Homo sapiens: one gene and its partners. The protein of the gene in region 1 interacts with the protein of each later gene in a biochemical or structural test. Each region holds a gene or a part of one and is shown on either strand. Other genes may lie near its edges.

The links.
Region 2: the proteins of PEX14 (region 1) and KDM5C interact in a surface display test, tested with the Homo sapiens proteins (one large-scale study listed by IntAct).
Region 3: the proteins of PEX14 (region 1) and TONSL interact in a test that uses a peptide from one of them, tested with the Homo sapiens proteins (one large-scale study listed by BioGRID and IntAct).

Annotation. Positions count from the first base shown.
Region 1 is NC_000001.11:10,621,449-10,625,092, forward strand, and holds part of PEX14 (peroxisomal membrane protein PEX14), read left to right. Parts: intron 1-1,570; coding exon 1,571-1,673; intron 1,674-2,891; coding exon 2,892-2,989; intron 2,990-3,644. UniProt on the Homo sapiens protein: Component of the PEX13-PEX14 docking complex, a translocon channel that specifically mediates the import of peroxisomal cargo proteins bound to PEX5 receptor.
Region 2 is NC_000023.11:53,215,064-53,218,707, reverse strand, and holds part of KDM5C (lysine-specific demethylase 5C), read left to right. Parts: intron 1-309; coding exon 310-432; intron 433-741; coding exon 742-912; intron 913-1,430; coding exon 1,431-1,565; intron 1,566-2,510; coding exon 2,511-2,634; intron 2,635-2,731; coding exon 2,732-2,913; intron 2,914-3,644. UniProt on the Homo sapiens protein: Histone demethylase that specifically demethylates 'Lys-4' of histone H3, thereby playing a central role in histone code. Does not demethylate histone H3 'Lys-9', H3 'Lys-27', H3 'Lys-36', H3 'Lys-79' or H4 'Lys-20'.
Region 3 is NC_000008.11:144,437,835-144,441,478, reverse strand, and holds part of TONSL (tonsoku-like protein), read left to right. Parts: intron 1-367; coding exon 368-513; intron 514-572; coding exon of another isoform or gene 573-608; coding exon 609-761; intron 762-1,002; coding exon 1,003-1,128; intron 1,129-1,268; coding exon 1,269-1,458; intron 1,459-1,585; exon of another isoform or gene 1,586-2,003; intron 2,004-2,696; exon of another isoform or gene 2,697-2,743; coding exon 2,744-2,826; intron 2,827-2,918; coding exon 2,919-3,008; intron 3,009-3,145; exon of another isoform or gene 3,146-3,251; intron 3,252-3,644. UniProt on the Homo sapiens protein: Component of the MMS22L-TONSL complex, a complex that promotes homologous recombination-mediated repair of double-strand breaks (DSBs) at stalled or collapsed replication forks.

The DNA of each region.
Region 1 (3,644 bases):
CGATTCTCCAGCCACAGCCTCCCGAGGAGCTGGGATTACAGGCATGCGCCACCACACTCAGCTAATCTTTATATTTTTAGTAGAGACGGAGTTTCACTGTGTTGGCCAGGCTGGTCTCGAACGCCTGACCTCATGATCTGCCCACCTCAGCCTCCCAAAGTGCTGGGATTACAAGCGTGAGCCACCGCGCCCGGCCAAGAATTCTTTACCTTTCTTGCTGAGGACATTTCATCCTGAAGTGTAAGGCTACCTTTGATGAGTTTTGGCTCAGTTGTGGGTAATAGCTCACACTGTGGTTGAAAAGCACTTTGCAAAATAGAAAATGCGTCTATACATGTGCTGCTGAAGAATGATCTTCACTTAGGAGTCACTCTGGAAATGAGTTCCCACAAACCCCTTGTGAGAGAGCTTCTTTTCCTTCCCTGGTACAGAAACCGTAATGGAGAAGTTTCCGTCCTCTTTCCTATCTGGGCCCAGATAGATTAAGAACCAAAGTTATCCCCGGGCAGCTCCTGCCAGGCTTGCACTGCACTGCCTCTGGCAGTGCCCACTGAAGGGGGCAGCGGGTCTCACTCCTCACCTGGGGGGCTTTGTCTCCATGTCCCGAGTGGCTGGACGTCAGTGCACATGTTCCTACACGCAGCTGTCCCTGCAGGCCCCACCACCCACCTCCACCCCTCCACACCCTCACCTCCAAGGCAACCAAGAGCACCAGTTGCCAGCCCTGCCCTGCCTGCCCCCTTCCTGAACGGCTCCTTCGGGCATCCCTGGTTCTAGGCCCCTGTGAGGGGTGGCCCTGCCGCATTCACTTTCTTTTTCCCCAGAGCCAGTTTCTTCTGGTCCTGCGCCTTCCTCTCCCTTCTGCCTTGTGTTTCCTTCTGGGGAACTCGACTTCTTTTGACTCTTACGTGAAGGAAGTTTGTTCTGAGGATTCAGGCTTCATTTAGAAAAAGACTGAGGTGACCTCTTCCAGCAGCCTCAGAGCGCACATGTTATCCCCTGGCGAGAGAACCAAGGGTCCCAGAAATGTGTTGTTGATTTTCCTTTAGTTTCTCCAGCGATGTTTTGTTTATTAATTTACTCGTTTGTTTCTGAATAGGTGATTCACTCACAGGTTCAAAATGTTCACAATTCAGGAGAACATGCCGGGAAGAGCTGCCCCGCCTCCCTCGCCTCCTGGAGGCTCCAGCATTATCTGTTGCTTGTGTGTCCATCCACATTTATATCTTACAACTTTGACAGTAGAGTTTATAACTTTGTGTTACAGAAATAGTGTAGCATCACTAAGAAAAGTAAATAAAGGAACCAAAAAGTTCCCATCACAGCAGATCCAGCTGACTCTCCCTGTCCACGTTCCCTCCTGGTCCTTGTCCTTATTCAGGCAGAATTTTTACGTGGTTGTAATCGCAGTCTCATAACTTTTTCAAATATCTTGTTCATTTATGGTGTTTGCTTAGGGTTTCCAAAACCCAGGGATGACAGGGAGAAAGTTGGGCGGCAGAATTTGAGAGATTGTTGGAGGATAACCCCGGGTCCGTATGCATTCCTCACCCTGTCCCGCTTCTTGCAGAAATACCTGCTCCCCCTCATCCTGGGCGGCCGAGAGGACAGAAAGCAGCTGGAGAGGATGGAGGCCGGTCTCTCTGAGCTGAGTGGCAGCGTGGCCCAGACAGGTAAAGATTAATGACTCCATCAAGTCACCCCTCACAGCCTTCTCCAAGCAGCCCCTTCTCTGCCCCTCCCCTCTCCCTCTGTCTCCACTCTATGTGGTGACTTCATTTATCTGCTCTGAGAATCTGTTCACATTTGCAAATGAAGCCGCCGTCATTTCGGTTTAATTTGAAATTGCTTGTTTACTGTCGGCGCGGCCTCAATTAATTATGTTTTTACGGAAAGGCTCCCAACCTCAGAATATTAATAAGGGGAATAAAATGACAGCCTTTCTAAGGGCTGTAAAGTTCATTTTTAATTTCTGCTTCTATGAGGTTTTCAGGGGGGTTTTCAGTGATTTTCCCCCTTCCCTCTAAGACTCGACTGTGGGGTCAAGAGAGTCTGTAATTACTGTGGCTCCCGGGACCCCAGCCACCTCCCCTGTTATCGACTCAACAGGGCTCGCGTTCATTACCCAGTGCCCCAGCGATGGCCCAGATTAGCTGGGACCTGTCGCGCCAGAGGTGGCTTCTCTTCTTTATAAACTTGTTTACTAGACGGCAGCTCTGAATCTAAAAACCAGAGCAAGGCCAATGAGAGAGCCACCTGTCCCAGGCAGGAGTCTGTGTCCCTCTGGAGCACGTTTGTGAAGCTCACAGAAACCCTCTGACACGTCCATCCTGCTGCCGTTTGCTCCTGCGAGGCTGACATTGGTGGCAACAAGGTCCTGAGGGGTCACGGGACACCAGGGAGTTGAGCAGGCAGCTTGGGTCAGGTGGGGAGGGTGGGAAGGAGCAGTGGGAAACAGGACGTGCGGCTTGAGCCACTCCTGGATGTGAATGTGGCGGGGACCTGAGATGCATCTCTCCCAGCATTGGAGACCCCAGGAGTTTCACAAGGACACTGAGGCCCAGGAGATGAAGGACGCAGGCGCCAGAGAAGCCGGGAGAGCTCAGCAAATCATAGCCAGCTCTAATTAGAGGGGAGAGGTTCTGGACGGATATACTGTTGACCATGGACAACTACACAATGGAAAGATAAAGTAGAAATACTAGAGGTTAGATACAGTGCAGGCAGATCACCCAGAGTGCAGATAAATTAGATGGATTGCGGGGGCTGGGGGTGTCTGCAGATAAATTAGATGGAGCGGGAACACGGGCAGCTCCGAGGTGTGCGGACCGAGCGAGGGGAACGTCTGTGCCTGTGAATTTGCCAGCGCCGTGACTGCTTTCTCCTCGCAGTGACTCAGTTACAGACGACCCTCGCCTCCGTCCAGGAGCTGCTGATTCAGCAGCAGCAGAAGATCCAGGAGCTTGCCCACGAGCTGGCCGCTGCCAAGGTACCTGTCTCTGCTGCACAGGGCCCTCCAGGCCCAGGTCTGTCCCATGTGCCCTTCACTCTTGTCCCTTGGGCCGGGCTTGCCACCTTCGGGAGCTGGACTTTGCCCCAGTCTCACAGTGGTTACACAGCCGTGGCCGATGCTGCCCTTTCTCTCCTTGTAGAGACAGGAGGCTGTTGCTGGGCAGTCAGTGTGACGTTTAACTGTCGAGGCCATCCTTTCTCTCTCTATGTCACCTCCCAACAGGAGGAAGGAAAAGCTACCCTCTGCCTGTGGAGATCTCATGGCAGCCACATCCCCGCAGCTCTGGAGGCTTTCTGTGTAGACATGGGACGGTCTCTACCTATAAGTTAGGTTGCAGGTCACAGCATGGCCAGGAGGGGTTCTGGAACAGACAGGGGAGAAGCGAGTCGCAGTCAGTTCACCAGCACCAGCCCCATCCACACCGCAGTGCAGCGGGCAGGTTCTCTAGACTCAGGTTCCATGGGTTCTGGCAATCCTAGGGAGCCAGAACCAACTCCCAAGGCAGTGTCCTTGCCTCACTGCCCAAATGTGAAGAAATCTTGGCGTGGCAGCTTCCAGGATCAGGCTGAATCCTGGTCCTGCCACTTGTTAGCTGTATGACCACAGGCAAGTTACTTAACCTCTCTGAGTC
Region 2 (3,644 bases), on another chromosome or scaffold:
GCTACTCAGGAGGCTGAGGCAGGAGGATCACTTGAGCCCAGGAGGTCAAGTCTACAGTCAGCCGTGATTGCACCACTCCATTCCAGCTTGGGCGACAGAGCAAGACCGTCTCAAAAAAACAAAAACGAAAGAAATGAGAGTGAGGTGGGGCTAAGCACTGCCTAGAGTCTGGGATCCGGTTCATTGGGAGAAACCCTGGGTAGTGAAAGTGTGGAGTGCTGTATTCCTCTGTTCTCCCCTAAGACTGGACCCAAAGATAGTGGTCAGTGGGAGGGGGTGGCCAGCCTCTTTGAGCCATTTCTTCTTCAGGCCCAGACGAGAGTGAAACTGAACTACTTGGACCAGATTGCCAAATTCTGGGAAATCCAGGGCTCCTCCTTAAAGATTCCCAATGTAGAACGGCGGATCTTGGACCTCTACAGTCTCAGCAAAGTAAGAACAGGTTTTTGTCAAGCACCCCTCCCACCAAACCCCAATATCCTTGATACTCTGGGGGCCCCCTTAGTTTGGATATTAGATCTTTAGGCTGCAATGGAAGGGGCACAGCTTGGTAGCACACAAGCTGTCATCAGAACATCTTGGAATCTTTTGCTGCAATTTGAGGTTGGGATAAGGGGATAGCCCCCAGTGAAGTGAGGGACTAGAGTTGCCCTCATTGCCCTTTTGCCCTTTCTACAGGCCTACTCCCTCACATATAAATACACGTGGCACATCCATGTCTTTTCCTACTTGTTTTTTCAGATTGTGGTGGAGGAAGGTGGTTATGAAGCTATCTGCAAGGACCGTCGGTGGGCTCGGGTAGCCCAGCGCCTCAACTATCCACCAGGCAAAAATATTGGCTCCTTGCTACGCTCCCACTACGAACGCATTGTTTATCCCTATGAAATGTACCAGTCTGGAGCCAACCTTGTGGTAAGGATGTCACAGTGGGGCAGGGTGCGGCTTTACCCTTCAGCACAGATTTCCACACTTGCTCTTAATGAAACTGGTTTAGTGGACTGGAGACCTGGGAGTTGGACTCTGCTCTTTCCTAGTGATGCTTATTCTCTTTCTACACTGCTCAGGGTCAGAGGTCCTGGAGTTATCTGTACGGCTAGCTTATTTGTTATGTGACAAAGTTTTAACTGATAGAGAAATCAGAGAAGGGAGAGCTTGGGCTAGAAGGTGTGGGAAGAGATGGCGTCTGATTTAGTTGGGGAGATGGTTGGTGGAGGAAGTGACTGGAAGGGAGGAGTGATACAAGCAAAGGTACTGAGAATTCCCAAAATGTGTGCTGGTGTCAGTGCTAAAGACCAGTGGAACAGGGGCTGTTGGTGTGGGTCAGGTGAGTGGACCACAGCTTTGGATGCCATTGGGTGAGGGTAGAGGGAAGTTATTGCTTTTGCGGGCTGGAGTCCATGTCCTGACCCTTACCCCTTACCTGTCCCCAGCAGTGTAACACACGTCCATTTGATAATGAGGAGAAGGACAAGGAATACAAACCCCACAGCATCCCCCTACGACAGTCTGTGCAGCCTTCCAAGTTCAACAGCTATGGCCGGCGGGCCAAGAGACTGCAGCCTGATGTGAGTACTCCCCTTCTTCGAACTTAGAGCTTTGAGGTGGAGGGAGTCCTCTCCTTCCTTCTGGCTAAGGCTGTGTTCCCTGTTCCATTATCCCTTCTTTTGTTCTCTGAGTTCTTCTGAGCATTAGTGTGCCTCTCTCTGGCTTCACTCTTGCTTTTTTCTCCCCTCTCAGCTGAGCTGCTGAGCTGGGTCTTGATCTGTTTGTGCAACCTCTTTTGTATGTCTGCTCTTCTTGCCTGTTTTGTTCCTTTCCGGACTTACTCTGCTCATAGAAGTAGAACTCTTCTTTCTCTTTATACCTGTATCTTTTGTTTTGTTTTGTTTTGAGGCATAGGGTCTTGCTATGTCGCCCAGACTGGAGTACAGTGGCTATTCACAGGCTTGATCATAATGCACTATAATCTTGAACTCCTAGGCTTGAGTGATCCTCTCACCTCAGCCTCTGGAGTAGCTAGGACTACAGGTGTGTACCACTGTTCCCAGCTCCTTGTAGCTATGTCTTCAGGCAGAAGCTTATGTGCCAGGCATTCTTGGCACTGGGAATACAATAGAGAACAAGATGGACACTGTCCCTGGGCTCATCGAAGCATGTAATTTAGCAGATCCTATTAGACTGCCATTTGTTGGTAATGCCAAACACTGTTAGCTTTTTCATATGTATTGTCCCTAACCCCCCTCATAACTATAAGGGAGGAGGTAATATTCTCATTTTACAGTTGGGAAAACTGAGATATCCTGTCTTTTATTCCTTTCTGAGAGAGGGCCGAGGGGGCAGCTCACCTACCCTCAGTCTCCAAAAAGCAACTCTGAGTTCTTGGCTTAGCCCATCTGTGCCTCAGCCCTCAGCATGAGATCAGGTGATATGTAGTCCGAGTTACTGTTCTTTTAGGATGGGACAGTCTGCCCCAGATAGCAGTCTTGATTCATTTCCTTCTTTCCTTCCAGCCGGAACCCACAGAGGAAGACATTGAGAAGAATCCAGAGCTGAAAAAGCTACAGATCTATGGGGCAGGCCCCAAGATGATGGGCCTGGGCCTCATGGCCAAAGACAAGACTCTGCGGAAGAAAGGTAAGGCCTAACAGGCTGGGGTGGCCTCACCTGGGGAGAAAAGTCAGGGCCCTAAGTGTCCTAGACCTGTGTTTACAGCCATTTTTCTCTCTCCCAGATAAGGAGGGGCCTGAGTGTCCCCCCACAGTAGTGGTGAAGGAGGAGTTAGGTGGGGATGTGAAGGTGGAGTCAACATCGCCTAAGACCTTCCTGGAGAGCAAGGAGGAGCTGAGTCACAGCCCAGAACCCTGCACCAAGATGACCATGAGGCTACGGAGGAACCACAGCAATGCCCAGTTTGTAAGGACCCAGCCCTGACTTCTTAATGCTCTGCTTCTTGTCCCTTCAATAAGCATTCCCCTGCATGGCACTGGACCAGTTCGCATTAACCACAAAAGCGGGCCTCCATGGGCCCTGCCCTCAGGTAGCTCACTTAATTGGGGAAACAAAGCCAACTCATATGGAACAAAGAGCAAGAAAGGGTGATCAAGTGCTGTCAACATGAAGTGCTGGAAGGGTCCAGAGAAGGAGTCTCACTCTCCATTGCTTCAGGATAAAGGCTAAGCTCCTCATTACCATGCATGATCCAGTCCCTGCTGACCTCTAGCCTCATCCCCCAGCACTGCCCACCTCACTCCTCTGCTATAGCCACACTGAACTCCTTGTAGGTATGTTCATTTTTCCCCGTAAGATGCAGTATGCTCTTTCATCCCTATCCTTTGCACATGTTGTTTCTTCAGCCTGGAAGAGATTCCCCCTGTGCTCTGCCCTGTTGCCATGTTTTGTTTTGCCTTCAGGTTTCAGCCAGTTTCAGGTGTTACCTTTTCAATGAAGTCCTTTCTCAAGGCCATCCCTCCTTATCTCCAGCTGCTTTGAGTGCTTCCTTCTCTAGGCTCCCACAGTGCCCTTTATGGACCGCTATTGGCAATTTTTAATTTTTATGAACACATGTCTCTAGAGTACTGTATATACTTGGAAGGATACCATGTCTTGTCTTTGTGCTAGAGTCCAGCGTAGTTCTGAATACGGGT
Region 3 (3,644 bases), on another chromosome or scaffold:
CTGGGACTACAGGTGCCCGCCACCACACCCGGCTGATTTTTTGTATTTTTAGTAGAGACGAGGTTTCACCATGTTAGCCAGGATGGTCTCGATCTCCTGACCTCATGATCTGCCCGCCTCGGCCTCCCAAAGTCCTAGGATTACAGGCGTGAGCCACTGTACCTGGCCCCGAGTTTTTAAGTGTGTTAGTTCTTGTGACCCTTGAGACCAGTCCCCAAGATAGACCCTGCTATTAACCCCCACACCAACAGGCAGGCAGAGGTGTGGAGAGAGTGGGGGGGCCACCACAGGGCTCACAGCTTGCAGGTGGTAGAGCTGGGGTCAGGGCCCCCTGTGCTGCCCCCCTGCATGAACCTCTTCCCGGCAGTGCTGGCAGTGGTCCGGCTGCAGCAACAGCTGGAAGAGGCTGAGGGCAGAGACCCTCAGGGTGCCATGGTCATCTGTGAGCAGCTAGGGGACCTCTTCTCCAAGGCAGGAGACTTTCCCAGGGCAGCTGAGGCTTACCAGAAGCAGGTGTGTGGCCCCGGCTGGGTGGGAGGGAAGGGCCAGTGAGGTTGACGAGGCCTGGCCAGGGTGGCAGCCCCTGGCCTCACTGGCACTGCCCCCAGCTGCGTTTTGCTGAGCTGCTGGACAGACCGGGTGCTGAGCGGGCCATCATCCACGTGTCCCTGGCCACCACACTGGGAGACATGAAGGACCACCATGGGGCCGTGCGCCACTATGAGGAGGAACTGAGGCTGCGCAGCGGCAACGTGCTGGAGGTGAAACCCTTGCTCCCCGCCCGAATGCAGGTTCACCCATGTCTCTGCCTCAGGACTGCCGTTCTCAGGGTGGCCATGGACAGGTGTCCTTACTGGACGGGCAGCTCCTTCCTAGGACCATCCACCCTCGGCAGCTGGGAGGCCGGGCTCCCATTTCGTCTGGGCAGCCGGGGAAGCTTGACTGGGGCCCGTTGGACGCAGACAGCGGCAGCCCCCGACCCTGTCCTTCCTCCTGCTCCAGGAGGCCAAGACCTGGCTGAACATTGCACTGTCCCGCGAGGAGGCCGGCGATGCCTACGAGCTGCTGGCCCCGTGCTTCCAGAAAGCGCTCAGCTGTGCCCAGCAGGCCCAGCGTCCCCAGCTGCAGGTGCGAGAGCCCATCCCACCCATACTGGCTCCCCGGTGAGCCCAGCTTCGTTGCAGCCTGCCTGCCCCTTGTGCCCCATCCCCATCTTTCTCTGCGTCCACAGCCCCCAGTCCTGAGCTGAGCATCCCTCTGCTCCTCAGAGGCAGGTCTTGCAGCATCTCCATACCGTGCAGCTGAGGCTGCAGCCCCAGGAGGCCCCTGAGACCGAAACCAGACTACGGGAGCTCAGTGTAGCTGAAGATGAAGATGAGGAGGAGGAGGCGGAGGAGGCGGCAGCCACAGCGGAGAGCGAAGCCCTGGAGGCCGGCGAGGTGGAGCTCTCAGAGGGCGGTGAGGGCCAGCGGCACCTTGCATTTCCCTGGGCCTGCTCTGGGCCGGGCTGGAGAGGGGTGTGCTGTGCTGCTGTGGAGCCTGCTTAGGGCTGTAGCAGGAACAGCCACAGGCAGGCAGGACGGCCAGTGCTTTCCCGGAACTGGACAGAGAAGGTGGTGACCCGCAGGGAGCCTGGGGCGGCCTTGGCCTCCTGGAGGAGACAGTGGTTGGGAGTCGAGTGAGTGTCAGCTGGGGCATGGTCCCGTTAGAGAGGCACGTGCCATCTGGGGCCAGGGGTGAGACGGTGCACTTTGAAGAGCCCCGGCTGCCTCTGCAAGAGCTGAGCACCTTCCTGAAACCCTTCAGAGCAGGCTTGGGTTTCCTCCAGAGGCTGGCGACATCAGCTGCACGGAGGGCAGGCATGAGGGACTGGCTGGAGCGGGGCTTGGACTGAAGCCATCTTGGCCGTGGTGCAGGGAGAGAGGGCTGAGAGCGGGGTTAGCGGGTAGCTGGGAGGCTGGTTTCTGACTGAGTGGTGGGTGGCAGGAGCCTGTCCATGAGGCCTGTTGGGGGGTGTTCCAGGGAAGGCTGTGACTTCAGCTCTGAACTCGAGGGCGTCGTTAGAACCCTGAGTGGCCAGGCAGCTGTGGGAAGTTGGGGCCTTGCCAGGTTGGTTGCTGGGGGGAGGTGGATCAGGATCTAGAATTTTGGGGAATGCTGCTCAGCTGGTGGGCACAGTGAGGAGCTGCGGAAAGACCCAGAGGCAGCTGGCAGGGTGTGAAGGGCGTGGTGATGAGGGGTCACCCGAAGCAGGGACGGAGGCGGGTGTGTCTGCTGCCTAGGCAGGGTGGAGGCTGCAAGGTGCAGGATACCCAGGCTCCAGGGCTGACCTGGCCTGACGACACAGCTCAGGAGATGGGGGTGGATAAGGCGTGGGGTGGAGGAAGACTGGCCCACGAGCCGGTCTGGGCGTGGGGATGAGTGGCTGGCGCATGGACAGAGGGGGCCTCGGGCAGGCCTTCTGTGGGAGGGCCAGGCGTGGGTTAGGGCAGAAAGCTCAGGGGTGTGTCTCAAGTGGGCAGAGGGATGGTGGGCAGGAGCAGGGTCCCAGCAGGGTCAGGGAGACATGGAGGCAGCGCTGGGACCATTGCTGAGGAGCCCCCAGAGCCCAGCAGCCTCAGAGCTCAGCCCTCCCGTCTCTGGCTCCTTTGTACCTGGGAGTTTGGGGAGCTTGCAGCAGGGTGGGGGCTGCTAACCTTCACCTCCCACGGACTCCCCTGGGGTGGGCTTGGCTCTGTTCCAGAGGACGACACCGATGGCCTGACCCCGCAGCTGGAGGAGGACGAGGAGCTTCAGGGCCACCTGGGCCGGCGGAAGGGGAGCAAGGTGAGGACAGTGCCCTGCCCCCACCCACCCCGCTCAGCAGCCCTGCCAGCTCCTCACGCCCCTGCCCTGTGCTGGGTTGGCTGTGCCCACAGTGGAACCGGCGAAACGACATGGGGGAGACCCTGCTGCACCGAGCCTGCATCGAGGGCCAGCTGCGCCGCGTCCAGGACCTTGTGAGGCAGGTGGGCCCCGCTCTGGGACGTGGGACAGGCTGCCTAGCATGGAGGAGCTGTGCGTTTGTGCCGGATCCCCTATCTCTGTAACTCTCAACTTCCTCATCTTCAAAATGGGGCCCCTTAGCAAGCATGGTGGCACTTGCCTGTGGTCCTAGAGGCAGGAGGATCACTTCATCCTGGGAGGGAGATTGAGGCTGCAGGAGTCGCGATCATGCCACTGCACTCCAGCCTGGGCAACACAGTGAGACCCTGTTTCAAAAAAATTTAAAAAGCGGAGGCTGCACGGGGTGGCTTATGCCTGTAATCCCAGCACTTTGGGATGCCAAGGCAGGCAGATCACATGAGCCCAGGAGTTCGAGACCAGCCTGGGCACCCTGGCAAGACCTTGTCTCCAAGAAATTTAAAAATTAGGTGGATGTGATGGCGTGTGCCTGTAGTCTCAGCTGCTTTGGAGGTTGAGGTGGGAGGGTTGCTTGAGCCTAGGAGGTGGAGGCTGCAGTGAGCCATGATCTTGCCACTGCACTCCAACCTGTGTGACAGAGCAAGACCCTGTCTCAGAAGAAAAGCCACAGGCCGGGTACAGTGGCTTATGTCTATAATCCTAGCACTTTGGGAGGCTGAGGCGGGCGGATTGCCTGAGGT